Linked DNA regions of Homo sapiens: all the other regions are reported to be linked to region 1. Evidence: microRNA targets listed by miRTarBase, many of them from high-throughput screens and not tested one by one. Region 1 holds a microRNA gene; each other region holds the end of a gene's coding sequence.

Region 1 (10,666 bases):
GTGGCTCTCACCTATAATCCCAGGAAAACCCTATCTCTACTAAAAATACAAAAATTAGCTGCGTGGTGGCGGGCACCTGTAATCCCAGCTACTCAGGAGGCTGAGAAGAGAATGGCTTGAACCCGGGAGGCGGAGGTTGCAGTGAGCAGAGATCGCAGCACTGCACTCAAACTTAAACACACACACACACACACACACACACACACACACACACACACACACACAAACTACTTATTTAAGTGAGGAAGAACTGAAGAAAGCAGTTTGGTAGTTCCTGAAAAGTTTAAACATACAATTACCATATGACCCAGCAATTCCACTAATATATACTCAAGTAAAAACATATTCATTTTAAAAAGCAAAAAAATGTGCCAGGCACAGTGGCTCACACCTGTAATTCCGGCACTTTGGGAGGCCAAGGTGGGCGGATGACCTAAGGCCAAGAGTTCGAGACAAGCCTGGCCAATATGGTGAAACCCCATATCTACTAAAAATACAAAAATAGCCGGGTGTGGTGGTGCACGCCTGTTGTCCCAGCTACTCAGGAGGCTGAGGCAGGAGAATTGCTTGAACCTGGGAGGCGGAGGCTGCAATGTGCCATGATGGCGCCACTGCACTCCAGCCTGGGCAACAGAGTGAGACTCTGTCTCAATAAAAAAATAAAAAAGAAAGGACAAAAATGTTCGAAGAAACATTTTTCACAAGAGTCAAAAAGTGCGAACAACCCAAATGTCCATCAGCTGATGAACAGATAAATAAAATGTGCTCTCTCCATAAAACGGAGTATTCTCTGCCTTCAAAAGGAATGAGTCCGGGCGCGGTGGCTCACGCCTATAATCCCAGCACTTTGGGAGGCCGAGCCGGGCGGATGACCTGAGGTCAGTTCAAGACCAGCCTAGCCAACATAGCAAAACCCCGTCTCTACTAAAAATACAAAAATTAGTCGAGTGTGGTGGTGCGTGCCTGTAGTCCAAGCTACTTTGGAGGCTGAGGCATGAGAATCGCTTGAACCCAGGAGGCACAGGTTGCAGTGAGCCGAGATCATACCACTGCACTCCAGCCTGGGTGACAGACTCCACCTCAAAAAAAAAAAAAAAAGAATTAAGTACTGATACTGATACATGCTACAACATGAACAAATCTTGAAAATATTACTATGCTACACCAAAGAATTCAGTCACAAAGGAACACATATTGTATGATTCCACTGGCAATCCAGAGATAAGAAAGTAGATGGGTGGTTGCCAAGGGCTGAAGGATAGAGGACTGGGACTAAGAGCTAACGGATGGGGTTTCTTTTTGAGGTAGTGGAAATGTGCTGGAATTAGATAGCTGTGATAGTTACACAGCATAGGAAATTTAAATCCACTTAAGTGTATACTTTAAAGTGGTGAATTTTATGTTAGGTGAATTATCTCAGTTTTTAAAAGTGAATGAAAAAAAGTGAAAGAGAGAGAGCAATACCAGCAAAGTATTTAACCAGAAATCAGTCGAAAGTCAATGAAGTGCTCCTGGTGTGCGTCTGTAAAAGATCCCCCTGGAGCTGTGTGGAAGACAGATAGGAGAGGGCAAAGGTGGATAATAAAATAATCAATTGCAAAGGTCCAGGTAAATGACAGCAGTAGCTTAAACTTGAATGGTGGTAGGTGTGGGCATGAAGAAAGGTGGATGGATGTGACAGCATTTTCAGAAATAGAACCTACTGGATTCTCTGACAAATGTGATGAAGGGAAAGGTTAGTATTAAGTATGACTGCTAGGTTTTTAGCTTGAGCTACTAGGAGGGGGATGGTGCCATTTACTGAACGGGAAAACTGGAGGAGGAACAAATATGAAAGTGGAGAGATGCTAATGACTTAGACGAGGGTGGCAGTCATGATGATAAAGAAAAGTGGCACTGACTAAGCATGGTGTCGTGATGAACTGGTTATGAGGGTGATATGTGTCCCCACCCAAATCTCATCTTGAATTATAATCCCCATAATACCCACCTGTCAAGGGAGAGACCAGGTGGAGGCAACTGAATCATGGGGGTGGTTTTCCCCATGTTCTCGTGATAGTGAGTGAGTCTCACGAGATCTGACGGTTTCATAAGGGCCTCTTCCCCCCTTCACTCGGCACTTCTCCTTCCTGCCACCTTGTGAGGGTGTCTTGCGTCCTAATTGCCTTCTGCCATGATTGGAAGTTTCCTGAGGCCTCCCCAGCCATGTGGAACTGTGAGTCCATTAAACCTCTTTCCTTTATAAATTACCCAATCTCAGGCAGTTCTTTAAAGCAGTATGAAAATAGACTAATACAGAGGGAATGAGATGCAATTCATGTTCTGGTAAGTCCGAATGATGCAGTCAGATCTGAAAGTCTATCAAAAGCTTTCTTATCTAATAGCAGTGAACTATAAATGTGTTGGTAAGGAATGTGCTCCTGAAAAAAGGCCTGATCTCCAGCTTTTTAAATAAATGACCACTAGTACTCAAGAAAATGAACTGCCATCCTGTCTCCCATGTGTAGTGAAAGTTACCAGAAATGTGTACCCATAATTTAAGCAGGGTAACTAAGTAAGCAGTCCTATAATAATATATGAAGTAGTGTCATGATATATTACCCCAAATATATATTTCATCCTGGTCTCTGCCTTACTGTCTCTGCACCAAATAAGGCCGGGCATGGCAGCTCACGCCAGTAATCCCAGCACTTTGGGAGGCTGAGTCAGGTGGATCACTTGAGGTCAGGAGTTCAAGACCAGCCTGGCCAACATGGTGAAACCCTGTCTCTCCTAAAAATACAAAAATTAGCCAGGTGTGGTGGCACACGCCTGTAGTCTCAGCTACTCAGGAGGCTGAGGCAGGAGAATCACTTGAACCCAGGAGGCAGAGGTTGCAGTGAGCCGAGATTGTGCCACTGCACTCCAGCCTGGGCAACAGAGCAAGACTGTCTCTCTCTCTCTCTCCTTCTCTAAATATATATATATATATATATATATATATATATATATATATATATATGCATTTTTTTTAAATGACATAAATTTACTGGAGTCATAGGTTTCAGAAAAGAGCATCTATGTATGGGAAGATTCCTATAGCTATTGTTGTGGAGACCTAAAGCCACCTGTTTTTAGCATCTCCTTTTTTAAAATCAAAATTACTACAGCAAACGTAAGGCATTGAAGATCGAGGTTTTGGTGTTTCTGCTGTGTCATGGACAGGATGTTTGTGTTCCCCTAAAATTCTTATGTGGAAATCCTAACTTCCAAGGTGACAGTACTAGGAGGTGAGGCATCTGACAGGTGATCAGGCCATGAAGGTGGAGCCCTCATAAATGGGATTAGTGCCCTAGGGAGCTCATTTCACTCTTTTTCTGCCATGTGAAGATACAATAAGTCACCAGTCTGCGACGTGAAGCCCCCTCACCAGTACCCAACCATGCTGGCATCCTGATCTTGGACTTCCAAGTTCCAGGATTGTGAGAAATAAATTTCTGTTGTGCATAAGCCACTGAATCTATGTTATACTTTTTATTTGTTTTGTTTTGTTTTTTTGAGGCAGAGTCTCGCTCTATTACTCAGGCTGGAGTGCAGTGGTGCCATCTCTGCTCACTGCAACCTCCACCTCCCTGGCTCAAGCAGTTCTCCAGCCTCAGCCTCCCGAGTAGCTGGGATTACAGGTGCTCTCCATCACACCTGGCTAATTTTTGTTTTTAGTAGAGATGGGGTTTCACCATGTTGGCCAGCCTGGTTTTGAACTCCTGACCTCAAATGATCCACCTGCCTCAGCCTCCCAAAGTGCTGGGATTACAGGCGTGAGCCACTGAGCCCCACCTGTTATACTTTTTTTTATAACAGCTCAAACTCATTTGGGGTTGGCATGTATGTTCTCTAAATTGACTGGTTCCCATGCTTTAAGTACAACAATGACCCTGCACCATTGCTCAGGTAATTGCCTCCTCCTGTAATGAGACTGCCCATCCCTAAAATCTCAGAACCTTCAGCCCTTTGGGTCCCCAGAGGCCCAGTTGACAGGCTACTTCCTCCATAAAGCTCTCCCCAAGAAATGAAGCCAGAGAGCCAGTGCCTCCTTCTGAATGCCTACTGCACTTACTGTGTATGTCCTTCAAAAGGATGGCTCTGGTGACCTACTGGCCTTGTGTGGAGGATGGTCCTGTGTGCTGGTCTTCTCTCTCTTCTACCAAACTGCAGGCTACTGGTGAGCAGGGCTGTACCTTACACACCTCTACAGCACCAAATAGGGGATGAGTGTTCCAAGAAAGCTGTGATTCACATGAATGTTTTCAGAAAAGAAGCCAGAATAAATTGTACACTATACTATAGATCCCTTAATCCTTATTACTGCAAAATACATTAATTGTGAAGCTTAAAGAACGTCCCCACTGCTTACACAACAGGTGTAGCTTACATAATCTGCTCTACCCAGCTGTTACTTACTTGTGGCAATTCCCTCCTGGCTTCTACTCCCTGTCGATATGTGGGATTACTGCACCATCCAGTATGATTTCCTTATTCCTTGCTCCAATCATAACAAATTTGTTAATTTTCCTTTATAACAGTAAAAATGGCTGAAACTCCAAATAACCAGAGATATCCCTAGGGTTTTCCATGACTATAAAACTCAAAAGACAATCCAGGATATAAACCAATATTTGTAAATATTGCCATAAAATTCATTGCTCAGAATTTTTTTTTTCCTATATAGTCTTCTTTGACAAAATACTGCAGTATTCCCACCATTTGGAAATTGTGTTACCCAAAAGGTATAGAATGGGATGAAGTGATGATGCAAATGAGTATTAGGACTATGAGCAAATGAATGGGAGCAGTAACAAAAGTCCAAAAGTCAGGAAAAATGAAAATCCACGAACTTGGCGATGCTCCAGAGAGGAAACCAGCAAGTGTTGACGCTAAACTGGCAGAAACATCAATACTTCCTGGCTCCCCCACTGGGTGCATCAATTTACCACCGGCAGGCTGCTCTTCTGCTTCAAGTGACAAACAGTAAGTGCTTTCAATGACAGTATGAAAAGGAATGACCCATAATCTAGAAGCATGGCTATGGGCAGCAAAGAAAAGATGTGATTGCTGGGAGTCTGTCTCAGCTGTACTGCTGATTAGCTTAATGATCTTGGACAAGTCATTTCCTTTCACTGAAAAAATACCAGTGTTTCACAATATTTGCGTGATGGAAAGAGTTAACATAGCAGGCCTGACACTGCTATTCTTAGTAAGGCCTGTTTGCAAGGTTGGTCCTTGGCTGGTGTCTGGGGACTTGGATTTTGGGAGGGTTTCCATCACCCTGATAAGAGTGGCTCACTCTGCTTAAGCTGTGTAAACAATAGGGTTTACACTGAATACCTGCTTTCCTCCTTGGGGTCTGGAATTTTGCTGTGTACCAGGTGGAGGGTGCCTGTGTGACCAGCTCCCACTAAAAACCCTGGGTACTGAATCTCTAATAAGCTTCCCTAGTAGACATTTCACACAAGTTGTCAAAACTCATTTGCTAGAGGAATTAAGCATGACCTGTGTGATTTCAGTGAAAGAGGACTGGAAGCTTGCACATGGTTTCCTCCAGACTTGGCCCCAATGAGCCTTTTCCCGTTACTGACTTTGCTCTGTATCCTTTTGCTATAATAAATCACATCCGCAAGCGTTTCTATGTACTGAGTTCTGCCAGTGAATCAACAAACCTAGGCCGGTTTTGAGGACCTCTGTCACAATTGGTATAGTGTTGAATAGTCTACCAAACGTTTTTTTCAACAGTCTTGTGAAATAGGTATTATTATTCCCATTCTATCGATGAAGAAACTGAAGTTCAAAAAGGTGAACAGAGAGTGTGCCCAGAAAATAAATATTTCCGTGTTTACTATATTATATATTGCTGTTCTCAAATTTTAGTGAACCTAAGAACCACTTGGAATGCTTGTTAAAAACAGTTTCTTGGAGTCTGTCACCCAAGACTTGGATTCAGTAAGTTCAAGGCCCAGGAATCTGTATTTATAGTAAGCATACAGGATTATTATTATTTGAGATGGAGTTTTGCTCTTGTTGCCCAGGCTGGAGTGCAATGGCACGATCTCGGCTCAGTGCAACCTCTGCCTCCCAGGTTCAAGTGATTCTCCCGCCTCAGCCTCTCAAGTAGCTGGGATTACAGGCCTGTGCTACCACTCCTGGCTAATTTTGTAGCCCAGTCTGAAATGCATAAGCTTCTTGGTGGCTGCTTCCTAAACTGATCATTCTTCATCTGTTATTACTGACTCAGACTGTGTTACCAATTCAGCTCAAAACAATTAAACAAGTATTAATTGAACATCTACTGTTTACCTGATGCTGTGCTAACTGCAAGATCATTTTCAAGAACACTTCTGATTTTTCCAAGAATACCTTGGTAAAGAGAAAGGGACTAGGAAAACATTGCCACATTAATACTTTATGACAACATATAATAGAGACGTCTAAAAAACAAATGATGATATCTGCTTGAACAGCAATATCATCAACATCACCAATCCTCCCATATTCCATTAAATACATATGGCACAAGAAATCAATGATTTCTACTTCACAAATACAGGTTAACCTTCTAAATCTGGAAATCCACGGTCCATTATCATTTATAAATCACATCTTCTATTATCAAGAAGTCAGCCGACCCAGTAATCCGTCCATACACTGCAATAATTGAGGGGCTGTCTGCCAATGTGTGGGCATAGGGCATCCTGTGCCCATATCTGCAGTGCTGAGCACTCATTCATCATTAAGCTGCAGCAGTGTTAACATATGCTGCAGTTGTGCCAGTATGTTTTGTTTTACGATCACCGCTAATCTACCCTTATACCAGGCCAAGAAGGTAAATGTTAAGTGAAAGGAAATAAACTCGAGAGCCAGCACCTAATTCATTTGTGGAAGCCCAGAACCTCCCTCCACCTAACCAGAAAAACTCCCCCAGTCTCGAGGGTTCCAGATGTAAAAGGTTCATCTGTATAAAGCACTACAGATGTACAGGAAATTCCACCACCTTGAAGAAAAAAATAGTATTTTTTTTTTATATCCCATGCATTCACCCTCTTTGAGAGAACTGAATAACCATGTTAGACAAGCAATGAGCCTTGATTTTTTCCATCACTCAACAAACCAGTATTTGATTTCACTCAGTGGGCTAGTTCTTTGCACATCATGCAGACACAGCAAGGTTAGTTATGGTTCTTTCAGGGGCCACTGGCCATCCTTTACCTCCTAGAACCCACTGCTCAGCAGGTGGTAAACTGGCAGCTTTTTGAAAAAACAAGCTCTTTTGAACAGTTGCATCAATATAAAAATGGCCAGCTTCACCTGCCCAAATCTCAATTCAGCTAAAAGTTAATTAGGAACACTGGAAACTACCTGGTATATAGGCACTCAATATTACTCACTAAATGGCTGAATTATTAGCAATAAGCATAAACAAAAGGAACAAACAGTAAACACTTACAGAAAGTATTCAGGACACATTCAGAGTTTTATGTTGCTTAGTCACTAAAAGGTAGATCAGGAAAAAAGAAGACAAAACCTGCTTTCACTTGTGTAAAGATTTATTTCAAGTTACAGTGGTTCATTTCTAAATAAGTTTCCCACCTTGCGTGGGGTCAGCCTAGCATCTATTTGCAAAAGAGCAGTTTGCCATGCGTAGGTCAGATGAAAGGAGACAAATGCAAGAAACTCCTTTTTAACTGACATCCAAACAACCAGAAAATAACTGATATTGTACAATCTATTTTTAGTAGAAAGAAAAATGACAAGTATGTAATAGTAACTTATTCACAAAGATCAAATTTCATGGTATGTCACAAATGTATTCAATGCAATGCAGTTACCATGCCCTCTATATCTATAGTTGTGTATGTAATGATAATTACAGCTCAGGAAGACAGGAACCTTGTCTGTCTTGCTCATCTACGACCCCAGGATTGACTGCAGTGCCCAGCACATAGTAGGTGCTCAGTGAATATTTGCTGAATGATAATTGCTCTGCAAAACCATACAATGCCTTAATCATCTAAGAAAGAGGCCAGGCATGCTGGCTCTTGCCTGTAATTCCAGCACTTTGGGAGGCCGAGGTAGGGAAATCGCCTGAGGTCAAGAGCTCGAGACTAGCCTGGCCAACATGGTGAAACCCCGTTTCTACTAAAAAATACAAAAAATTAGCCAGGCGTGGTGGCAGGCGCCTGTAATCCCAGCTACTAGGGGGGCTGAGGCAGGAGAATCGCTTGAACTCGTGAGGCGGAGGTTGCAGTGAGCCAAGATCGTGCCATTGCACTCCAGCCTGGATGACAAGAGTAAGACTCTGTCTCAAAAAAAATAACAATAAAAATAAAAATAAATAAAAGAAGGGGATATTTTGTGGCCGGGCTCATGCAGATGGCAGATCCTGGGACTTCTCAGCCTCTGTAACTGCATGATCCAATTCCCATAATAAATCTCAAAAAAAAGGAAAAAAAAAAAGATTATACTATGGTCAGTATAGCTTTCGGCATTAGATGTATTTATTCTAATTCTTAGAATACTAGTAATGTATACGGTATACCCCAACTAACAAGAACTCATTCTTTGCTCATTCTGCATAAGAGCGGGTTTACAATAATCACTATCTGTAAGTAAAGGTTATTATTTATGGGATACATACAAAAGTTGTTCTTTCAAAAAATATTTTACTGAACACCTACTAGGGACCAGGCACTGTGCTAGGAGCTAAGAACACACTGTGAACTGTCCCTGTCTAGGACAGCCTTTCTCAATTAGGGTTCCTTCACTCCAGCTGCGCAGGAAAATGTTAATTTATTACTAACAATGCATGTCCTAGGGCATCAGTGCCAATTCTCTCCATGTTGAGAAAGACTAGGGAGCCATACAAGTTAAAAGGCAATTATAACACAATATGATTTAAAAAAAAAAAGTTGCTTTTAAGTATGGTCAAGTTCAACTGCTAAACCTAGACCTCTATGAACAGCCATGTGGGAGCCGAGATACACAGACCATTTGTAATAGTTGTGCAAATGTAAAAATATTGCAATACATACATACAGATATATTTCTAAACACAGTAAAATAAAATCAATATTTTCCCGCTCGTCAATGTCAGGCCAGGATTATTAGTAAAGTGAAACAGAAAAAAAAAAATGTTTAATTACTCTGATAGTTTAAAGGGGAAACTAAAAACCTTCTTGCTCCTGGGGAAAAAACAAAGCAATTACCTGAACTATTTTCTTAATTGCCTCCATATATTGCTTCATTAGACTAGCCTTGCCTTGGACTCAAAGCAATAAATTAGCTACCTATTTCATTAATTCTTATTTTGTATTTTTTAGTCTTATTTTAAATTTCCATTCTTCCTTATGCAGTCTAATTTCTTCCTAGTCCTGGGCATCTTCTGTGTGATATTATGATTATATGCTACATGCTTTATGAAACCAAAGCAGTTTAAGGGCTTCTAGAATCAGAGATTTAAATGTACTCCAGTATTTCACACTCACAATTAAGCTTTCATGTATCAAAGGTCTAGAAATGCATACCTGTTAACTATCACTGACAAGCTAAACTGACAGCATCCTCTTGACCAAGCCCCCAACCTACTTTATCAAGAAATCTCTTATTTTGAATCTTTAGTATAAAATAATTTCATAAGCCAAAAAGAGGGGGGAATTGTTTTTAGACTTTCAATAAATCTTTAAACCCAAGAGAACACGTTACTATAGTCACTAGGAATTGCATTAAGAATAAAACAAGACAGGATAACATAAAAGTCCATGACCCTTAAATCTCAACTAGTCCAGACTTCTGATTAAATATGCCTTTGAAGAAAATAAATTGTACAGACAGAGTTATTATTACTTATTTACTGTATTTATGGAGATGTTGACTTGAGAACAGGTGGTGCTTTTATTGCACTCAGAGACATCCAACTCTTAAATCCTTTAGGACACCCTCTACATGCCTCAACCCTAAAATGCTATACACCAAATCCACCAATTTCTTTCCACCTCAAAACTGTCAAAAGGAAAGTCATAATTCATCAGAAAGAAAGGAACACAGTTATTAATGGCAAAGAAGTCAAGACCATGTATTTAAAAAAATACAATGAATCACTATTTTCTTTTAGCTTGAAATTGGAAAACTCGAAAAATAAATGGCATTTCAAAAATGATTCAGCAAACACAACTGAGCTATAGAAGATGATGCTTGTAAGAATCCTAAGGGATTCTTCCACGTCAGGTTTAAAATATAAAGGAAGCACTTCTCTAATATGTAGTCTAGTTTTCAATAACCAACAACTACAATCAACACCACTGTAATTTATTTCACAATCAAAACCAATATCAGACACGTACAGGTACACTAAAAAAACAACTCATTTTGAAAGGAATTCATAGCTCTATTTCTAAAATATTAAAACAATCATAAGACAACTCACAACCTTGACTACATCTATACTGCTGTGAAAGTCTCAAAGTTCCACTCAAATCTTTAATTCTAGTCTTCTAGTAATTCAAATGGAAGTACCCCTCAAAGAATTTGTCAGGCAAAAGAGGAGAACAGCGCATGGTTTACTGATCTAAGAGATGGAAAAATTGCCCCCCTCCCCCAAATTTTGAAGCCGTTTTTTAGCAATGATTATTTGATAGTA
Region 2 (10,666 bases), not on the chromosome of region 1:
TTCTGGCAATTCATGGTAGGTGATCTTGTTCATTGTAATCTGATACTGGAATTAGACCGAAAACATTTTCTGCCAGTAAAGAGATAGCACTGACCTTTATAGTATCAAGAAATCTTGTATCAAGTTGATATACAGATTCTTATGCTTTTTAAAGTTTGCAAGATATATCACTTACAAAAGGAAAATCATATTCAAACCCAAGTGTTCTGCTCCAGCTTCCCTGTTACTTTTTTGTCCATCATGTGAATGGCAGTATTTCATAAAAAATCAGTGAAATTAATTTAGCTAAGAAAGCACACATACCTGTGGTAGATATATTTCCTCTAATCACACGACCCCTTAAAACATAGTGCGGGGGAAGAGAATGTATGATTTCTTTCATGCTCACTACCTCATCTTTTAGATTCTTGGTATCAAAGTATTAATGTATATAATTTTTTTAACGATGGTTCCATTGATATGCTTCTTTCATTTTAATGTGACCTGTTCTCATTTGGATCTAGAGTTGGTATTCTGACAAATAAATTTACTTCCTTTTCGGATACTTGTAAGATAATTACAAAGTAGTCTATAAGAATGTCTTAAACTCTCTTATTAGCTATCCTACTAGCACTGTTTCATTATTTTTTTTTTAGTGTGCATTTGTATTTGGGAATGTATGCCTTGCTTTTCAAGTCTTGCTTTATGCCAGTCATCAGAGGTAGCAGAAAAGACTAGATCAATACTGAAAGTGCTAAACACAATGGGCTAAAGACATATCAGGTTATTTAAAAGTTAATTTAAGCCAGTCTTTTTAAAGCCTTTTTCTTCTTTATGCTAAAGCTCCCCGTATTCATTCCTCTTTATTCCTTCCCAGAAGTAGTTATTATTCTGAAGTTGGTGCATATCATTCACATGATTGTTTTATAATTTACGTATTTGCTACTGACAATTAACAGTTTACCTTTAAAGTGTCACTACATAACTTCGCAAAGCATTATAGGAGATGATTTTTCACAAATGAAAAATACATTTACCACGTGTGGTTAACAGATACATGCATATATGAACTAAAAATTTCATCCTTATGGTACATCTTTACCCAAAGCTATAAAATTTATTTGTATATACTTTAAATGTCTATTTTACTGAATGAAGTAGTGTCATAAAGGATTAGATCACCTGCCAATTCACCACCTATAGCGGTAACTCTTGAACACAACTTCTAGCCTTTTTTTTTCTGGGCTATACAACCATGTTTCCTTTTCCAATTTCAATATATTTCTAAAGGAAAAAGACCAAAACGGTAAGTGAGATACAAATTTGAAGCTTCTCTAGAAGCTTTGAATGAGGAAAAGACAGACTTACCAAAGAGAAAAGGAAATGCAAGGAAATTACAGTGTTGTCTTTTGTTTATTTTTCAGGTTACACGGTGTGGGCACACAACCTCATTGCCATTGCTCGTCTTCGGGGCTCTGATCTGAAAGTGCTTGAAGTCACCGAAGAAAGCATTGATTTTGACCAAGGTGAACTGGCCGACCAGGATGTAGATCCAGTGCATAACCTTATTGAGCAGGTATCCCTGGGCCTGGGTCAACCTTGGCATGCAGTCATGGACATCGAATCACTCAGTGTCTTCACTGAACCAAATCGTCATTTTTACAGAGAGATGCAAAGCTTCAGTGAAGACATTTAGCTTTTTTTTAATGTAGAATTCCTGTGGTTACATATGCAAGTAGGGTCCTATTATGTTTTTTTTTCAGTAGTGTGAATTAATCCTTTTGTGCTGTGTTTAATCAGTATTAGCTTTATAGAATTATATATGTATATTCTACTTCTTGATCAAAGAACGTAGTCGGGTATTGGTTTAGAAGTTCAAAGTGACAATGTATAGGGCTTTCACGGTTAATGGACTTGTTACCAAACCTTAAGGATATACAGCCGAAGATTGTCTGAGGTTGCTGGCTAACTTTATTTTTCACTGAGTTACTCTGCCTTTTTGACGTTTTTATTCTTTGTGTGTCAGAGTTCAGAGCTCAGGAGCCAAAATATTTTTATACATATATAGATATATATCCATAGCCTGGTAGATTTATATGCAATGCACTGCATCCATGCATTCTGATAGCATTTCATTAATTTTGATTTCAAATGGAAGATAAATAATATCCCAAATGAATTATCTGTAACAGAAAAGCCAAGACTTTAACTTTCATTACATATCTAATAGTTGATATCACCAGTTACCATTTTGAATTTTGTATAGTACTAGGTTAGAACATTGCTTAATCCTTTTAAAAAAAATGCATTTACGTAAACACGAATACTGAAATTGTTGGATTTTTTAACTATATCTGACATAATTTTATTCATCAATTACATTACACATTCATTTAGCCCAGATTTCAAATAGTGGGGGAAGAAAGAAACTGTATTTCAGAGTAAAATCTCCTAAAGGAAATAAAAACACAGAGTTGTAAATACACATGCTTGCAAAAACATTAGTCGTGAAATCCCTAGCAACAAGTCACTGGATTTTTCTCTGTCAGCACGCGTGTCAGCTGCCAAAGAATAGACTTAATGAAGAAGTGCCCACATGCTGGCAGGGGCCGGCCCACTCTGGCCAGCCAGATACTGCTAGATTGTAATATTTAAGGTCGAATTTCGACCTGTGGTACACAGCTGTGCTGTGGCTCAGTCAGCAACCTCAGAACTCTGAAAAAACAAAACAAAAAAAAAAAAAAAAGAAAAAAAAAACATGCACCTGTTTCACTGTGAATAGTGAATGTAAAGGAAAGAAAGGAAAAACTGAAAGCTTGTTCTATCACAGGTATGAGCTGCTATGATACATGAAGAACATTCCATGAAGTATGTTTTAAAACCTTGTTATATCTGAGAGGCTTTAAAAGCCTATTAACTGTTTCAGGGCAACCGCGGTACAGACGTGGTCTCTGTGAGACTTCCACCTGACCCCAGTTTTAAGTGGTACGAATGTTGTGCATTTAATGTTAAAGGACAGTCTGCAATAATAAAGTAAGTAGCCAACCTGGGTGCCCAGCAGTGCTGAGACCTGGCTGCTCTATTGTAAGCTTTGGAAACACAATTTATGCAACAGATGTCCAGATATGATTCTATTTATGGAAAAAAGTTTATATGTGTTTTACAAATGGTTTTACCATCTTATATTAAAATGACCTTTTGACAGGTGTGCACTGTTTTGTCTCCAGTGAGCACATACCATGCGGATTTTATATGTACATCAGTAGTGTGAATCCACTGGCACAGTGTGTGTAAATGCCAGATGTGGTGAGATTTTATCTTATAAATGTGATCAGATAAAATAACTCCTGACAGAAACTGTAAGGAAACCAGCTGAATGTTTGACCTGATGACTGATGTTGTATGGTTTATGTTAAATGTATATTCTTTTAATCAATGAATAAAGCATTAAAAATGATCATTGTAATATATTTTATTGTATATGAAGCATGACTACTTTTAGTGTTAAATAAACTGCAATAATCCTTATATTGTGTATAATAATGTGTTAGTATTCTGGTTGTATTCTGGTGCAGCAAAGCTTAAATTTGAGATACATTATAAAAAGTCTTAGCTGAATAGTTTGGAAGATTTTTTTACAGAAATTCACTTTGACAAAATACAAGCTTAAAAGCAAACAAACACTGGATTTCTTAGCACAAAATCTCAGTATATTATGCACCTAGAATACATTACATTATCAATATGGTAAAACTTAATTTATAGACTAGAGGGGCTGCTTTTTTAAAAGAAGATTCCTATACCAAATGCAAAAATACTTAGATATGCCAATATTAAATTCTTCATAAACCCCTATATTCCTTTATTTATTTTGGTATTCTGATCTCTGTTCTTGGTTGTTGAGACTCACAGCTCTTATTCATAGGAAACAAAAGGACTTCTTTTCTTCCTTCCATCTTCCCTTCCTTATCATTCCAGACATTGACTCTTCCAGGCACTGCTTTATCTTGGAATAATCTGGTGTTCACAAATAATTGTCCTTATACTTTTTACTTACCACTTCGTTACTTTCCTGGACACATCTGAGTCCTTTGAATGAATCAACATGTTTAAGTATATATTTAAGACGTACCCAAAATGTACGAAAAAGGAAAGTCTACTAATATGAATAGCATGCAAGTTAAGGTTATTGTAGTAAAGCTCTAAATTTGGGAGGCTTGACATCTGTTTTCTAGTCTAAGCTCTGGCTCTACTTGAGCACAGACTCCTCTTTCAGCTTTGGTTTCCTCATCTCTAAAATGAAGGATTGGTCTTGGCTAGCTAAAACTCCGATTCTTCATTGAAATTTTCCATTGCTGTTAGCTCAGTAGCTCACAGATACACAAGATCATCTTTAAACCAAGGTATTAAATATTTTCAAAACATAGCTTATTAAACTATATGAAATTTACATATCTATCTAAAATTACTTTCCATTTCCCCACCACAAAGATGCAGAAATTGAACACAAAGATGGGGAAACTTGCTTGGGACTTAGAGCATGAGTCATATTGGATCCTTATGAAGCCAGTAACATAACACAGTGCTAATGGAGTAACACAGCAGATGTGAATAATACCCAGGGACCATACCACATTGTATCAATGTTTCCCAACCTTTGTCATGTTGTAGCACACATAGAAAATATTGTACAGCATACTGGTATAAACCAGAAAGAATTAGAGAAAAAAATTACTTTTTTTAAATTATATAATTGATGAAAAAATGTAGAAGATTTGAGGAAAAATACTGAATTTGTATGGAACTTTCAAATAAAATCTTGCCAGATGTTTTAATTGATTTAATTGACATTTGATTAAAATGTTTTAATACTGTCACCAATGAGAAACACCCCACAAACAGGTAATAATTTTTAGGTCTTTTTTAAAAATAACCATTCGTTAATTTATGCAGTTGAAACTAAGAAATTTAACGCTTCCTTCTTTGGGAAATAATGTTGTGAGTTAAGTTCAAATTCAAATTGATGTTTATTACAATTATTTTAAAATCATGATGCTCTAATTTGTAATCTCCCTTACATAATCCTACTGCTAGGTGAGACACCACTGAAGAGTAAACAGCCACCAACTTTATATATATGTGAAGGCAATTAGAGGCTGCAGGGAGCCCTCCTCCCACCTCCAGCTCCCAACCCTTTCAAATCCAACTAGCCACACCTGGGGGCCTCACACTTGGGCTTCCTTCCTGCTCTTTGGACACCTGGAACGTATTTCTTTCACAGCTTTGTAGACGCCCCCCCCCCCCCCCCCCCCCACCCTTTTCTGTGATGGACAGTGACTCATCTGGCTAGGAATAGTGAGTATCTGAGTTTGCTCTCTGTCCAGGGCCTACTTTCAGAATCAGCTCCACTCCCACTGCTCAGAAGAGCCTGAAAGCATCAGAAGGCAACCAACCCAGGCTCCAGCCACCCCAGGACTCATTAGGTGTCCTTGCAGGGTATCACCCCTGGTACAGTATACTAATTAATTTGGTTTGCTGGTTGTGGAAAGAAACGGATGATGTATTATGAGTAAGTTTTCAGGATACTTGAATCATCCTTTCTGAAAGATTTTTTTAAAAGGGCAAGATATACCATGTGTTGGCAAGGAAGAGGAAACACAGGTGGAACTTGAACTGATATATCCATTTTGGAAAGCAAACTTGCAATATCTTGTAAAGTTGAAGTTGCCTGTGCCCTGTAACCCAGATTTTTCACTTTTAGATGTATTCTCTAATCCCATGTTTTCTAACTTGTTTTCCTAGCCCCTAAAAATGTACCCCTTTGCATATTTTTAAGTTAAACATGTAACATTGGTCATAATCTTAGCAGATATAAACATCAGCAGTTTAAAGTAAATTACATACATGACTTCTTAAAATATGTATAATGGAATCTAAATGCTATAGTAATTTAGTACTTACCATCTTTTTTTTTTTTTTTTTTTTTTGGACAGAGTCTCACTCTGTCACCCAGGCTGGAGTGCAGTGGTGCGATCTCAGCTCACTGCACCTTCCATCTCCTGGGCCTACCAAGTAGCTGGGACTACAGGCCTATGCCACCAAGCCCAGCTAATTTTTGTATTTTTTTTAGTAGAGTTGGGGTTTCATCATGTTGGCCAGGCTGGTCTTGAACTCCTGACCTCATGCGATCCTCCCACCTTGGCCTCCCAAAGTGCTGGCATTACACGCATGAGCTACTGCACCCAGCCTACTTACCAACTGTTTTTAAAATGCAATTCACTCACTCTTGATCACTAGAAATTTTGTCATTCATTTTCCTCCTTAAGCTTGTATATTGTCAGTTATCAGTTTATTTGCCTTTTAGCTCTGAATGAATCCTTCAATATATACTCTCTCATAATGAAAAACAAAAAACATTCACACCCTCTTCACAAGAGTGCTTACCTATGAGGCAGGCATGAGGACAAGGATCAGTGTGGATGGGCATGAAGGTAATTTTATCTGTAATGGGGCATTCATTATATTATTTTGTTATTTCCTATTTTAAAAAATAATTTGTAATTTACTGATCCAAGTTACAAACAAATGAATGTTCATGGACTGACTTGTTTCATAATGCTGAGTCTAAAGTCAACTGTTGTAGTCCATTTTGTGCTATTACAGAAGATCTGAAACTGGGTAATTTAGAAAGAATATTAATAATTGATTTCTCACAGTTCTGGAGGCTGGGAGGCCCAAGATAAAGACACCAACAGGTTTGGTGTCAGGTAAGGGCCCTATCTCCACCTCCAAGATGGCACCTTGAATGCAACATCCTCCGAAGCAACAGTGTAATCTCACATGGCAGAAAGAGAGCTAATCTACTTTTGTAAGCACTTTTTATAAGGGCAATAATACATTCATGAGGGTGAAGCCCTCATGACCTAAATAAACTTCTCCCATAAGACCCCACTTTCCAACTCTGTTGTATTGGGGACTAAACTGTGAATTTTGGAGGGGACACATTCAAACCATAGCAGTGACCAAGGCAGGAGGACAGAGTATTGCTTTCTATCCTTTCATGCATTACTGAATCACAGTAACTTGAAAGAGGCTCAAAGATCTACTGAGAGCTTAAGACCTAGTTGTTTGTAGGAAAGTTCTGAATAGATTTTTCAAAATATGTCACTGTGTGGGGGAAAAGGGGAGATACTGGTCAAAGGGTACAAACTTTCAATTATAAAATTCTGGAGATTTAATATACAGTATGGTGACTACTGTTAATAATGTATATTTGAAATTTGCTAAGAGAGTAGATCTCAGGTGTTCTCACCACACCAAAAATGGTAACTATGTGAAGTGATGGATATTTTAATTAGCTTGAGTATTGTAATCATTTCAGTATATATATATATGAAAACACATTGTGTACCTTAAATATATGCAAGTTTTGCCAATCACACCTCAGTAAAGCTGCAAAATGGCACTGTAATTGACTCTACCATATTTCAGTTTAAAGCACTATTGTCATTAGATTAATACTTATTTAATGTGGACATTATATCCAACAACCTCAGCTATTTGAAGTGTAGCCAAGGATCCAGAAATAAGTATAAAAGACTCGTGGAGCTGGATTAGTCCCTGACTAATGGGTAAAGGTGTCACACTCAGAAGAGCCATTTCCAATTCCTGCTAGCTCACTTTGTCTTATTTTCAGCATAATTCTAATAAACCTGTTCATCAGGTTTCTCAGTCTACAGTGGGTTAGAAAGGGAAAGGAAGGGGGTGACTGTGAAAGGCATGCAAGCTTACACATGTGAAAGCAAGAGCATAATCAGTCTTAGGCCATTTTGGAGTTTGAAACAGACTTCAACACCCCTATAACAAACCTGAACTACAGGGCAATGGTAAGTATTTGTAATGAACTTGAATCAATATGAAAATTACACTGTGTTCAGAATATTGGCATAAATTAATGGAGCATTTAATACATTTTGGAAATATTTCTACTGAAGATGGCTAAAATAATACTATATATTTAAAAGACTAGCCTTTAGCTAAAAAATACACACTTAAGGCCGGGCGTGGTGGCTCAGCCTATAATCCCAGCACTTTGGGAGGCCGAGGCAGGCGGATCACCTGAGGTCAGGAGTTGGAGGCCAGCCTGGCCAACATGGCAAAACCTCATCTCTACTAAAAGTACAAAAATTAGTCGGGCGTGGTGGCGGGCAACTGTAATCCCAGCTACTCAGGAGGATGAGGCAGGAGAAGCTTGAACCCAGCAGGGGGAGGTTGCAGTGAGCCGAGATCGCACCACTGCAAAAAAAAAAAAAAAATCACTTAAGTAAATTCTCTGAGAAACAATGTTGATAAATAGACTAAGAAATACCATAACTTATATGTATTAAATATTTACTGTGTGCAAAGCACTGTTTTGAGCATTTGACAAACAAGTATTTTGTCATTTAATTCTCACAGCAACCCTGGAGTAGATATCATTTCATTTCACATATAAGGAAATAGGCATAGAAAAATTAACAATTGTGTCTAAGTTGTAAAACCAGTAAGAGTTTGGGTAGAATTTAAACCCAGAAGATAGAACTCCTACATTACATGACTTTTATCCTGCTGATCCTAAAGACTACGATTACCTTACTATTAGGTAGATAATTCTATTTTTCCACTTAGTTTGTAAAATTTACAGATATTAAAGCTCCATCCATATTCTCCATGTACCAGTATTCTTGCTGTATTTCTTGAAGTGCATTAACTGCCCTTGGTATATTTATCAGTATCACCAAATCTATGGAATCACAAAGCAACAGAATAATCATCATGTAGGTGTATGAATTTATGCCTAACACATCTAACATACAAAGTGTGTGTGTGTACTATATAACCTAATCTATGCGTATAATTTTATTCTAATTTTTAATAATACATAATTGGCCAGGTGCAGTGGCTCATGCCTGTAATCTCAGCACTTTGGGAGGCTGAGGCGGGCGGATCACAAGGTCAAGAGATCGAGACCATCCTGGTCAACATGGTGAAACCCCCATCTCTACTAAAAATAGAAAAATTAGCTGGGCATGGTGGCACAAGCCTGTAGCCCCAGCTACTCGGGAGGCTGAGGCAGGAGAATCGGTTGAACCCGGGAGGCAGAGGTTGCAGTGAGCCAAGATCGTGGCACTGCCACCAGCCTGGCGACAGAGCGAGACTCCGTCTCAAAAAAAAAAAAAAAAAGAATACATAGTTGGTATGTGATGAGCCAATTGTTAGACAAGATAGCTCTAAAATTAGAATAGGCACTGCACTATAGTTGTAATTATTTCTGAAAGCTTAAGAACTACTCAACTGAGATGACATTATTAAAGATTTTCAAGTGGTTTTAGTTTTAGTTTTTTATTTTTTTTTGAGACAGTCTCACTCTGTCGCCAGGCTAGACTACAGTGGCACGATCTCAGCTCACTGCAACCTCCACCTCCCGGGTTCAAGTGATTCTCGTTCCTCAGCCTCCAGAGTAGCTGGGATTACAGGCACGCGCCACCACACCCAGCTAATTTTTTTATTTTTAGTACAGACGGGCTTTCAACATGTTGGCCAGGATGGTATCAATCTCCTAACCTCTTGATCCGCCCACCTTGGCCTCCCAAAATGCTGGGGTTACAGGCGTGAACCACCACACCTGGCCTGAAGTGGTCTTACACATAATTGTGGTCAATATATAATTGTGGTCCTTTATAAATATTATCTTGGCTATATTTGTGGACCCAACAAATAGAAGACATTTTTTAAAGGCTAATTAATTTTATAATTTGTTAATACCTGAGCTGACTGAATTGATCATGTTTTCCACTAAATTAATAAAATCAACAGACTATTTTCGCATCGTATCATCCACAGGTTATAAAGTTGACAGATCAAACTTTTTCAGATCTACATAGTTACCTGATTTTTTCTCCAAAATAAATTCTCTTTTGACATAGTAGATTCTTTGATAATATATAACAGTTATACTATAATCTTACTAAAACATATAAGTTAGACTTTAAGATTTTTTTGCATGGATTTAAAGACAAAAGTAAAACAGACACTCTGAGGATACTATTTGGACCTTACTTAGATACTGATTCAAACAAACAAACAAAAAAAAATTTTTAAAGACAATTGCAAAAATATGAATGGATCTTTATGTTATTAAGTTACTGGATGTTAGGTGACATTTGATGATGGTAGGAAATTATTGGGATTTTAAAGGGTGGACACTGGTATTGTAGTTATGTTTGTTGTTTGCTTAAGGGTCCTTATCTTATAGAAATATACTCTGGATTCCAGCCCAGGCACATTACTAGTTCTGTCTGTGGCAGGAATTTTAACAGCTGTCCTGCCTAATCACTGGATATAAAGCCACCACAAATAGGTATGAAAACTTTTTAAAAGCTAATGCATAATGCATTGTACAAATTCAACATGTGACTAAATATCATGTACTCTGTTAGAATATATGTGAAATTAAAGCATCAAAACTAGCTTTGGAGTTGAAACATACAGGAAGAAATCATTTTAATTTATATATTTCCAAGCTCTGCTGCACCTGAATATTTTGAAACACACAGGTCACATTTAGCCTCATGGGATAAATGTTAACATTGTCACTAGAATTTTCCAACATTGTCACTAGAATTTTTCTGGCTTACTAGAGCATTCC
Region 3 (10,666 bases), not on the chromosome of region 1:
AGCCCCTGGGGTGGCTCTCTCAAAGCAATATAGTTCCCCTGCGGGGGACAGCAAGACAGGGGAGAGGGTTGGGGTGGGGACCTGGGGGTTCCCCATGTACAGCTATGTATATTCAGGGGTGTTCTCCGTCTGGTACCCGCTGTGGGCATCTATGTGTGTGTGAACCTCCCCTTCCCCATGCCCTGCATGACCTGTGATGCTGCAGACACCACCATCCTGTGTGCAGGTGTGTGTTGGGGGGCACGGAGGGGCATGTTCCATGTCCTGTTGCACCCTCCACCCTGTGACCCATGTACTCGGTTGTAGGAAGTAAAGAGAACTGAGCACAATTCACTGGATTCTAGTGGAATCTTTCTCTAAGCAATTTTCCCATTCCTGCCTCTCCCTGCCCCGGAACCACCTGTGGTGCTAGTGTTGGGATCGGGGGCGTTTAACGCTGGTGGGCAGCAATAAGGGGCAGATGTGCCCAGATGCCTGCATCCCCAGGGTGCCGAGGGCAGCAGGAAAAAGTGGGGACCTCGGTGCATTTGCCCCACCCCTCCCCTCCCTGGGCTAAAGCACAATGTTCTCCCCGCAGATTAATGACCCTGCACCCTCCAGGCCCCTACTCACATCCTCCCCCAACCGGCTTCGGGTCCTCCCACCACACTCTGGTTTTCTATGCTGTTTTGGTGCAAGTACAACTGTCGTAGTCATGGCTTTGGGATGGGTTCTGTTTATTAAAATCCTATTGCTCCTACTGGCCCTGTGTCCCGCCTCCATTCCTGTGGTTGGGGGGAAGGAAGGGCAACCCGACCCCTTTCCACTGGCCCCATCAGCCCTCAGTGGTCACGGGCAGTAGCCGCTCCTCCAGCAGGGTTATGGCAAGCATGAGGCCGCCCCCCAGCAGCAGCCCCAGCCCCTGCAGGAGCACATGGGGCGTAGGCAGGGGCTCCGGAGGACGAAGCAGGGCTGGTAGCTGAAAGAAAAAGAGGATGTCAGGATTCTGGCCTTGCCCCTGACCTCTCAACTCCAGAGGAATGGTGTCAGAAAGCATCAGCAGCCCCCACCCAAACACCTTAGTCCCTTGTTTCTCAGACTTTTGCGGGCCTATGGTCTGACGCCCTTCCAGGAGCTAATGGTAGAGGCGGAGGGACTGCTACCTCCCTCTCCACTCCCGCCTCCCCACTGCCCTTGATTTCTCTGCTCTACCCGACATCTCTCACCATGTCCACAAGGGCCACATAGAGGAAGACCCCAGCAGTGACCCCAAACACCCAGGGAGTGAGGGGGACAGGGCCCAGGCTGAGCCCCACCCCCAGGACTGCACCCCCCAATCCCAGGGCTCCAGACACGAGGCTCAGCAGCAGCAGCCGCCGAAAGGACAGCCCTGACTGGAGCAGCATGGCAAAGTCACCTATTGGAGACAGAGGACAGGATGGGAGGGAGTAAGCTGGGGTGCCCCTCATCCATGCCACCCACCAGCCTCCAAGCTCTACCCCTTGGAGCTATCTCCTTTCTGGAGTCCACCCCACCCTGCTCCTGCCATTCCTACCCAGTTCGTGGGGCAGCTCATGGCAGAAGACCGCTAAGGTGGTACTGAGGCCGCTGGAGAAGCCATCAGAGAAGGCAGCACCTGGGGCCAGCAGGGTCGGAAGTTGTCAGTCCAGAAGAAAAGTCTCCTCAGAAGCAGGTTCCTGTGTTCCGTGGTCCTCCCGTCCTCTCCCCATCTTCCTGACGGCCCTCTCCTAGCCCCAGCTGATAACTAGGAGCCCTGGCCTCCCCTCGGACCTGCTTCCCTCCGTTCCCACCCCTCACACCTATGGCCAGCCCATCAGTGAGGTTGTGTAGACCATCTCCCAGGAGGACCATCCACGTGATATCAGTGCCACCCTGGTGCCCATGACTGTGGCCTTGGTGCCCAGGAGGGGCCAGAGCTGGTGGGTGCTGGCTGTTCTTCTCCCTCTGGCCCTGAGCCCCTGGCTCTGCGGGAAGAAGCACAGGACAGTGTTGGTGGCTGCAAGTAAGGACTGTGAGCTTGGAACCTACTCTTCAAATTTTCTCCTCTAGTCACCTGGAGCTGCCTGTAGGGGCTGAAGGGCCATCCCACTGCCATTCTCCGGATCCAAGTTGCGTGTTTCGAGATTCCTTCGTTTTCGCCTGCAGCATCTCTGAAATAGGAGGGCATCCCTCCTGGTGGAGGAGGCAGCAGAGCCAGGGACTAAGGGGAAGCCAGGCCACAAGCTGGGAAGATGAACACCTGGTTCCACCTCTGGCACCTGGGATGTTCTTTGGCCTCTACCTTCTTCCCAAGTTGGCACCTCCCCTCTGTTTCTTGTTGACTTGAGCTCAGAATAGGATGCCATTTGGCCAGAAGTCCTGGGTCTGTGCTTAAGGAGCCCCTACCCACTCCCTGTTAGCCGATAGGTCCTGCACACCAGGCAAATGTCAGAGATCCAGGAGCACACACTGCTCCTCATCTCTTGGCTTTTTGGCCCAGTTTTGTTGTTGTTGTTGTTGTTTTTGAGATGGAGTCTCGCTCTGTCACCTGGGCTGGAGTGCAGTGGTGCCATCTTAGCTCGCTGCAACCTCCACCTCCCAAGTCAAGCGATTCTCCTGCCTCAGCCTCCTGAGTAGCTGGGATTACAGACACGCACCACCACGCCCAGCTAATTTTTGTATTTTTAGTAGAGACAGGGTTTCACCATGTTGGTCAGGCTGGACTCGAACTCCTAACCTTGTGATCTGCCCGCCTTGGGCTCCCAAAGTGCTGGGATTACAGGCGTGAGCCACCGCGCCCGGCCTGGCCCAGTTCTTGACTGGGACTCTGGTCTCAGCAGAAGGAGGAGAAAAGGGTATCACTCACTGGCCTGAGCCCTCGGTGCCGCAAAAGCCCCAGCATGTTCTCCAGCACAAAGAGCAGGAAGAGGCCTCCGAGCACTGACAGCCCCGGGCCCAGGTCCTTCTCTGGTAGTCCGCCAGGTCCTGCGTGCCGCCCTTCTTGTGCCTGACAGAGAGAAGGTCAGGGCAGACTCTGGAAGCCCCTATACCCAACAACATCCCCTTGCATGGATTGTGGCAAGCCTTCGCTCATATGCTCTACTAGAAGGCAGCTGTGGGCTGAAGCCAGGATCTGGGAGTAGGATATGGGAGCTGATGGAAAGGCGGAGGGGATGTCCTATGGCTGGGGACACCTTAGATCCATGGAGGCCAGGGGTACAAGGAAGGGGCTTCACATACATGCGGTAGCAGATGTAGCAGTGCATCCCCACAAAGAGTGCCCACCGCCAGGGCCCCCAGGAAGCCCAGCAAGGGCCGTAGTAGACGAGGTCCCAGGAGCCGCAGCAGCAGCAGGGATAGGGGAGAAGGGAGGCTGAGCAACAGGACTGCCAGGGCACTCTGAAGCAGGGCTGGGGAGAATCAGGGGCTGAAGTTAGGTCAGGGCAAGAGGAGGGTCCCACACGTAAGGTGGAGCAGAGAGAACACTACAAGGAGAGGCAGGACCCCAGTGAGCCTCCTTTTTGGCATGGGCCCCACTTCCAGGATTCAGGGTGTCCCCCACCCACTCCTACTTGCTGACCAGATAGTAGATCCCCTGGGGGTGCAGGGGCCGGAGCGCCGATGCAGACGCGGCTGTCGATCTGATAAAGCAGGGCTGGGCACAGCAGAGCAAACTGACGAGGGGTCAGAGGAGCAGCGGGGCTCAAGCCAAAATTGACCAGCAGCTGGGAGCCGTTCAGACACTGGAGAATTGAGGGTCATACATTGGAGAATCACCAGGAACTATGACTCAGATCTTTAACACCTGGCCAGGTGTAGTGGCTCACACCTATAATCCCAGCCCTTGAGAGGCCCAGGCGGGTGTATCATCTGAGGTCAGGAGTTTGAGACCAACCTGGCCAACATAGTGAAACCCTGTCTCTACTAAAAATACAAAAATTAGCTGGGGATGAGCCGGGTGCGGTGGCTCACGCCTGTAATCCCAGCACTTTGGGAGGCTGAGGTGGGTAGATTGCCTGAGCTCAGGAGTTCGAGACCAGCCTGGGCAACATGGTGAAACCCTGTCTCTACTAAAATACAAAAAATTAGCTGGGCATGGTGGCGTGCACCTGTGATCCCAGCTACTCAGGAGGCTGAGACAGGAGAATCGCTTGAACCCAGGAGGCAGAGGTTGCAGTGAGCCGAGATTGCACCAGTGCACTCCAGCCTGGGCGACAGAGTGAGACTCCATCTCAAAAAAAAAAAAAAAAAATTAGCTGGGGATAGTAGTGAACACCTATAATCCCAGCTACTCGGGAGGCTGAGGCAGGAGAATTGCTTTAACCCAGGAGGTGGAGGTTGCAGTGAGCCAAGATCACGCCATTGCACTCCAGCCTGGGTGACAGAGTCAGACTCTACCTCAAAAAAATATATATATATATATTTAACACCTGTCCTTCCATTGCATAGACTCCTGGGTCTCTCCCAGGGTCCCCTTTGCTCCTACTGGCAGGTACCTTGGGGACTAGGGCCAAGGGTACTTATAATCAATGTGTATTATTAGTGAATATTCAGTCCAATGCAGGTATTCAATTTGATGCAAACTGGGTGCTAGTGAGCATTGTCATCATCTTCCCTGCAAACTCTGATCATTTCAATCATTTTGTTGATTTGATAAATGAAGCTGGTTGGAAAACTAGAGCTCTCCATGCCAGAATCTTAAAAGGGAAAAGACCCTGAAATGCCATCTAATCTCCCTCTCAACAGCCCTGTCGATGTTCATCCAGCCTCAGCTTGAATGCTTCCTGCAATGGGCACTCACTGGACCTCCATCAGGGTTAGGCAGCTTTGTCTGCCCTCTGGTGTAAGTGGAATATATTCTCTGTCTTTCTGGATGAAGACAGCCATCCATTCCCTGCAGGTCTCCTCTCCAGGTGACCATCCAGATCCTACCCTGGGCTGCTTCTCTAGATTCTCTGCTTTGCCATCTATTCCCCTAAACTGAGTCTTGGAGCTCTGGATATGGGCTCACCTGCTCTGATCCCAGAGGGAACATAGTTCACTATTGAAATAACATCCCCTAAGACCACAGTGAGATATTTTTTTTTTATTTTTTTATTTTTTTTATTTTCATTTTTGAGACAGAGTCTCGCTGTGTTACCCAGGCTGGAGTGCAGTGGTGCAATCTCGGCTGACTGCAATCTCCGCCTCCTGGGTTCAAGTGATTTTCCTGCCTCAGCCTTCCGAGTAACTGGGATTATAGGCATGTGCCACCACGCCCAGCTATTTTTTTTTTTTTTTTTTTTTTTTTTTTTTTTTTTTTGAGACAGAGTCTCCCTCTTGTTGCCCAGGCTGGAGTGCAAATGGTGCCATCTTGGCTCACTGCAACCTCTGCCTCCCAAGTTCAAGCAATTTTCTCACCTCAGCCTCCTGAGTAGCTAGGATTACACACACCTGTTACCACACCCGGCTAATTTTTGTATTTTTTAGTAGAGATGGGGTTTCACCATGTTGGCCAGGCTGGTCTCGAACTCCTGACCTCAGGTGATCCACCCACCTCGGCCTCCCAAAGTGTTGGGATTACAGGCGTGAGCCACCACGCTTGGTCCACGTTGGGATTTAAAAACAAAACAAAACAAAAAACTACTGATTATTTAAACATTTCAGGCCATCTAATCCCATGGCTCCTTCCCCTCTAGAGACCGTCAGACTCACATCCTCATTCAGGTGGTCAGCCAATGAGTGGTCCAGCAACAGAAGCCTGTGAAGGAGGTCCAGGCCCGAGGGGGCTGGCCCACGGGGTAGGTGAGGGGCCTTTGACTCTTCCAGGTCACCCCACCCTGAGGGACCCAGAGGCATCCCTGCCCAGACATCCACACTCAGCTCAGGGTTCTGTGGCCTGGAATGGATGAGACAGCAAGTCAGCCTCCCTTGTGTTCTCTATCAACCCGCTTTGAGAGGCTCCCAGGGATTTTAGGGGGAATGGGGGGACTAGCCACTGACTGGAGATCCTGGGACCCAGAAACCATGGAATGTCATTCTTAGGAAGATCTGTGAGTTGTCCATTTTCTGCCACTGGGGGGGACAGAAAAAAAAGGACGACAACCAAAAGGGCTACGAATGGCTGGGCACGGTGGCTCACGCCTGTAATCCCAGCACTTTGGGAGGCTGAGGTGGGTGGATCACCTGAGGTTGGAAGTTCGAGACCAGCCTGACCAAAATGGTGAAACCCCGTCTCTACTAAAATTGCAAAAATTAGCCCGGCGTGGTGGTGTGTGCCTGTAATCCCAGCTACTCAGGAGGCCGAGGCAGGAGAATCGCTTGAACCGGGGAGGCAGAGGTTACAGTGAGCCAAGATCACACCACTGCACTCCAGCCTGGGCGACAGAGCGAGACTCTGTCTCAAAAAAAAAAAAAAAAAAAAAAGAAAAGAAAAGAAAAAAGAAGTCTACGAATTTGGAGCCAAATCAGCCCAGAGACACTGAACAGTGATACTAAGAGCAAGAAATTTAAGGGCTTAGAGATTTGGAGGAGGAGAGAATTAGAAGGCAACGGAGGGCTAGGGTGGTAGTTCACATCTGTAGTCCCAGCACTTTGGGAAGCTGAGGCAGGCAGATCGCTGAGCTGAGCCCAGGAGTTTGAGACCAGCCTGGGCAACACAGCGAAACCCTTGTCTCTGTAAAAAATTTTTAAAATTAGCCGGCTGTGGTGGTGTGTGCCTATGGTCCCAGCTGCTCAGGAGGCTGAGGTGGGAGGATGGCTTCAGCCTGGGAAGCAGAGGTTGCAGTGAGCCGTGAATGTGTCACTGCACTTTAGCCTGGGTGACAAAGCGAGACCCCCAGTCTCAAGAAAAGAGAGAGAAGGCAATAGAAGCATGAGAGGTTTTGAAGAGATACCAAGGAGCTCGGTTCTGAAGAATTTGTAACTCCAGGGATCTCGTGAGGAAGCCAGAACGAGGCAACTGGGGGCAAGCACTGAGAGGACCTGGGAGATGTGGCCCTGTGGAGTGGAGGAAGGGGTCAGTACCTGTGTGTGGAATTGTCTGCAGCTGGGGATGCAGCCCGTCCAGTCAGAGGCCCATGCTGTCCCAGGCGAAGCCCCTGAACTCGGCCTAGCCCCAGGCTGTGGAGAAGCCGCGCCAAGCCCCCTGCAGTCAGCGTCCCATTCTCGCCGTACAGGCCAAACAGCTGGGCCAGGTAATGGTTCTGCTCCTGCTCAGCAGGGCCCAGGTTGGGGACTGAGCCCCCTACCCAGCCCAAGACGACCCACACACAGAAGCCGGCCAGCAGATGACTCACTGGGGACCCCATCATTGGTGAGGGGAATAGCTTAGGGGCTCAGGTTCTGGCTCCTATTCTCCCCGAAACATCCTGAGGACTGTGCCCTGGAAGAATGAGGAATGGGCTGGAGCTGCGCTCTGCTCTCCAGCTCAGGTCCATGGGGGAGCCAGAGCTCCTTGCACCTGCTCCCCACCGAGTCCAGCAGCAGCCCCTACTGCAGCCTTCTTTCTCCCTTCACACTGCCTCCTGCGGGAGCAGCCTCTTGTTTGCTGGTTCCTGGAGCACCTCCCTGAGTCAGAGCTCTCCTCATACTTCATCCAGAGCTGACCGTCCATTCCTTGTCCCCTAAACCCCACCCCTCAACTTTGCCCCACCTCTTTATCCCCCCTCAATCCCCAGGGCCTCACCCCTACTGGCAACATAAGAGCTGTCACCTCAGGTCCCCTATTAGGCCTTGCTGTAGACGTTAAGCAGTTCCTGAGTCAGGGAAGGGGGAATCCAGGCTTAGCCTCCAGGTGTCCAGGTGGATCGGAGGCCACGTCACATAGAAGGCTGAGATGGACATGCACCCCCTCCTAGCCCACCTGCCTTGGGGCGGGGTCAGGGGTGGGGCCAGTGTGTGAAGGCTCACATAAGAGAGGAGTTAATGGTTCACTGGTCTCTGGGGTAGGGATCAAAAGTCAGTCTCTGCTGGGCCCCTGGGTAGGGAGGGGCCACCCTCTGCCCTGGGAAAGCCACATGGCTAAGGAGAACCTGGGCCTAGTCTTTTTCCTCTTAAATAATTCACCCTATCCTTAACACCATTAGTACCATTTTAGCCCTTTCCCTCATGTACTTCCACCCCACCTACCTTACAGTCTAGCACTAAACTTCATCTCCAACCCCCATCCCCATATTCCTTGGGAAGGTTGGACCCAGGTGTCCCTAACCTGGGGAGGAGGGGGGAAAAGGCAGATCAGTGGCAAGCCCAGATGCATGCATGGGAAATAAACTGTTCTTAGCAGTTTCTCACCCCAAGAAGAGAAAGAGCCAGAGCTCTAGGGATCGATGACCAAGAAAGGGGAAGCCCTGCGGGGGGAGAGGAAACAAGGATCTGGGCTCTCCTCTGATGTCTGACCTGGCCTAAAATCAGGCAAGCAAAGTCTGATCGGGGTGACTGGTCCAGGGGGTTGAGGTTGGCATTACCTGATAGCAGGAGACAAGGACACCCAGAGGAAGGGGGACACAACCTTCTTGGTTCCAGCTGGGGGGGCAGGCAGGCAGGCGGGCAAGGGTCACCTGCAGGGAGGGGGTAGGGGAGGGACACTACCTTAAAGGGGCAGGTCTGCTTTGCCTGGGCCTCCTTACCTGTAACCTATTTTCCTTCCACCTTCTAGGGACACCCCACCTTCCCAAATGCCTAGTTGCTAACCTCTTCCTTTTCCCACAGAAAGCAAAGGAGTCCAACACAGAGTAGAGTGGTAACATTTATTAGGAAGGAGAGACTTCAGTTAGACTCCCATGTCTCACACAGAAGAAACAGATGGTAACTGCCATTTCTTTCTTTCTTTCTTTCTTTCTTTCTTTTTTTTTTGAGATGGAGTTTCGCTCTTATTGCCCAGGCTGGAGTGCAATGGTGCAATTTCGGCTCACCTCAACCTCCGCCTCCCGGTTTCAAGAGATTCTCCTGCCTCAGCCTCCTAAGTAGCTGGGATTACAGGCATACGCCACCATGCCTGGCTAATTCTGTATTTTTAGTAGACACGGGGTTTCTCCATGTTGGTCAGGCTGGTCTTGAACTCCCGACCTCAGGTGATCCGCCCACCTCGGCTTCCCAAAGTGCTGGGATTACAAGCGTGAGCCACTGCGCCCAGCCAGTAACTGCCATTTCTAAAGAGGAAAGAGAGCAGGCAGAGGGTCCTGACTCCCAGGGGACAGGTAGTTCAGCTGGACAATGAGGGAGTATGAGATTAGGGTGGATAAGGACACTGCTCACCACCCTCCACTGAAGTTCAGTGGCTAAAATACTGCTACACCAGCCAATCAGTGGAAGGCTATCTTGCTCTCCAGGGGACACTTGGGATGTGGTTGGTGGCAGGAAGAAAGAATGTCATGCTATCTCTTGCTGCTCCTCCGGGTTTCTTTGCCGTTACTAACAGGGTTGCTGGAAGGGCCAGGCGGGCCTGCAGGTGTGTGGTTGGGCTGGCTTCGAGTGATTCGGGTGCTGGGTGGGTGGGAGGGAGTATGAGGGGGATGTGGGCCACCACCGGGACCTGGTGGGGCACTCAGTCCATTCCCATTCTGGTTCTCAGAGGCTAATTGTGGGAGGAGAAGAAACAAAGGAATTAGTTAACATAGGAGAGGGGTCCATCCCAAGGCCTGTCTCCATGCCCCAAAGAGTGGCACAGTCTTCACCATGCACAACTGCATCTTAATGCCAACTGGACCAAATGCAAAAGACTGTGGGCTGCGAGTATGAATGGAGCTCCAGAGAAGACTTACACGATCATTTAGGAAGTTGCTACATGAACCTCGGTACGGTATTTTTCTCTTGTAGTTATCTCACTATTATTGGGAATCAGACCTAGAATTAGCTGTTTAGTTCTAGGCTCAGGGACCTCTGACAAAAATGCCCCTTTACTGGGCCAGGCGTGGTGGCTCACACCTGTAATCTCAGTACGGTGGGAGGCTGACGCGGGTGGATCACGAGGTCAGGCATTCGAGACCAGCCTGGCCAACATAGTGAAACCCCGTCTCTACTAAAAATACAAAAAATTAGCTAGGTGTGGTGGCAGGCGCCTGTAATCCCAGATACTCAGGAGGCTGAGGCAGGAGGGTCGCCTAAACCTGGGAGGCAGAGGTTGCAGTGAGCCGAGATTGCACCATTGCACTCCAGCCCGGGTGACAGTGTGAGACTCCTTCTCAATTAAAAAAAAAAAAAAGGCCCCTTCACCAAAAGTGATTATAAAACTGGAGAAGCATGGCAAGGGGAAGGGCCTGAAGTCTCTGCGTTAAAATATGAGGCACTTAAAAAAAAGGTGTGTATGAGTGTACGATAATGATAATGTTCATTTTAGAAAATATAGATAACCATCAGTGAAAAGATTATTATTATTTTTTATTTATTTATTTTTTTGAGTTGGAGTTTCGCTCTTGTTGCCCAGGCTGGAGTGCAATGGAGCGATCCCAGCTCACTACAACCTCCGCCTCCCAGGTTCAAGCAATTCTTCTGCCTCAGCCTCCTGAGTAGCTGGGATTATAGGCATGAGCCACCACGCCTGGCTAATTTTGTATTTTTAGTAGAGATGGGGTTTCTCCATGTTGGTCAGGCTGGTCTTGAACTCCCAGCCTCAGGTGATCCACCCACCTCGGCCTCCCAAAGTGCTGGGATTACAGGCGCGAGCCACTGCGCCCAGCTAGTGAAAAGATTATTACACGTAATCTTACCC

What was found. Region 1 holds the annotated microRNA hsa-miR-505-3p (CGUCAACACUUGCUGGUUUCCU, at 4,892-4,913, opposite strand). A microRNA usually pairs through its seed, bases 2 to 8, with sites in the 3' UTR of a target mRNA and lowers its output. Matches are read on the target gene's strand: a 7mer-m8 pairs with bases 2 to 8, a 7mer-A1 pairs with bases 2 to 7 and ends in A, and an 8mer does both.
Region 2: miRTarBase lists FBXO33 as a target of hsa-miR-505-3p. The part of its 3' UTR that is shown has no 7-base or 8-base seed match.
Region 3: the mRNA of NABP2 is a reported target of hsa-miR-505-3p. The part of its 3' UTR that is shown has no 7-base or 8-base seed match.

Annotation. Positions count from the first base shown.
Region 1 is chrX:139,919,269-139,929,934 of GRCh38, forward strand. MIR505 (microRNA 505) reads right to left here and starts at 4,963; the gene lies at 4,880-4,963. The region is part of intron 1 of ATP11C (ATPase phospholipid transporting 11C (ATP11C blood group)); the gene reads right to left.
Region 2 is chr14:39,390,525-39,401,190 of GRCh38, reverse strand. It overlaps FBXO33 (F-box protein 33), which reads left to right. Exons shown (of 4, transcript NM_203301.4): 3 at 1-15; 4 at 1,404-3,507. The coding sequence ends at 1,675. Among named protein-coding and RNA genes, the nearest start is that of FBXO33, 37 kb to the left of the region's middle.
Region 3 is chr12:56,227,880-56,238,545 of GRCh38, reverse strand. It overlaps NABP2 (nucleic acid binding protein 2), which reads right to left. Exons shown (of 7, transcript NM_024068.4): 7 at 8,692-9,532. The coding sequence ends at 9,333. SLC39A5 (solute carrier family 39 member 5) reads right to left here and starts at 8,495. Exons shown (of 13, transcript NM_173596.3): 1 at 8,424-8,495; 2 at 8,251-8,306; 3 at 7,673-7,715; 4 at 6,985-7,342; 5 at 5,674-5,857; 6 at 3,560-3,722; 7 at 3,220-3,389; 8 at 2,846-2,986; 9 at 2,054-2,150; 10 at 1,800-1,964; 11 at 1,535-1,615; 12 at 1,206-1,396; 13 at 700-958. The coding sequence starts at 7,271. The coding sequence ends at 815. It overlaps ANKRD52 (ankyrin repeat domain 52), which reads left to right. Exons shown (of 28, transcript NM_173595.4): 28 at 1-739. RefSeq lists a silencer at 1,423-1,641.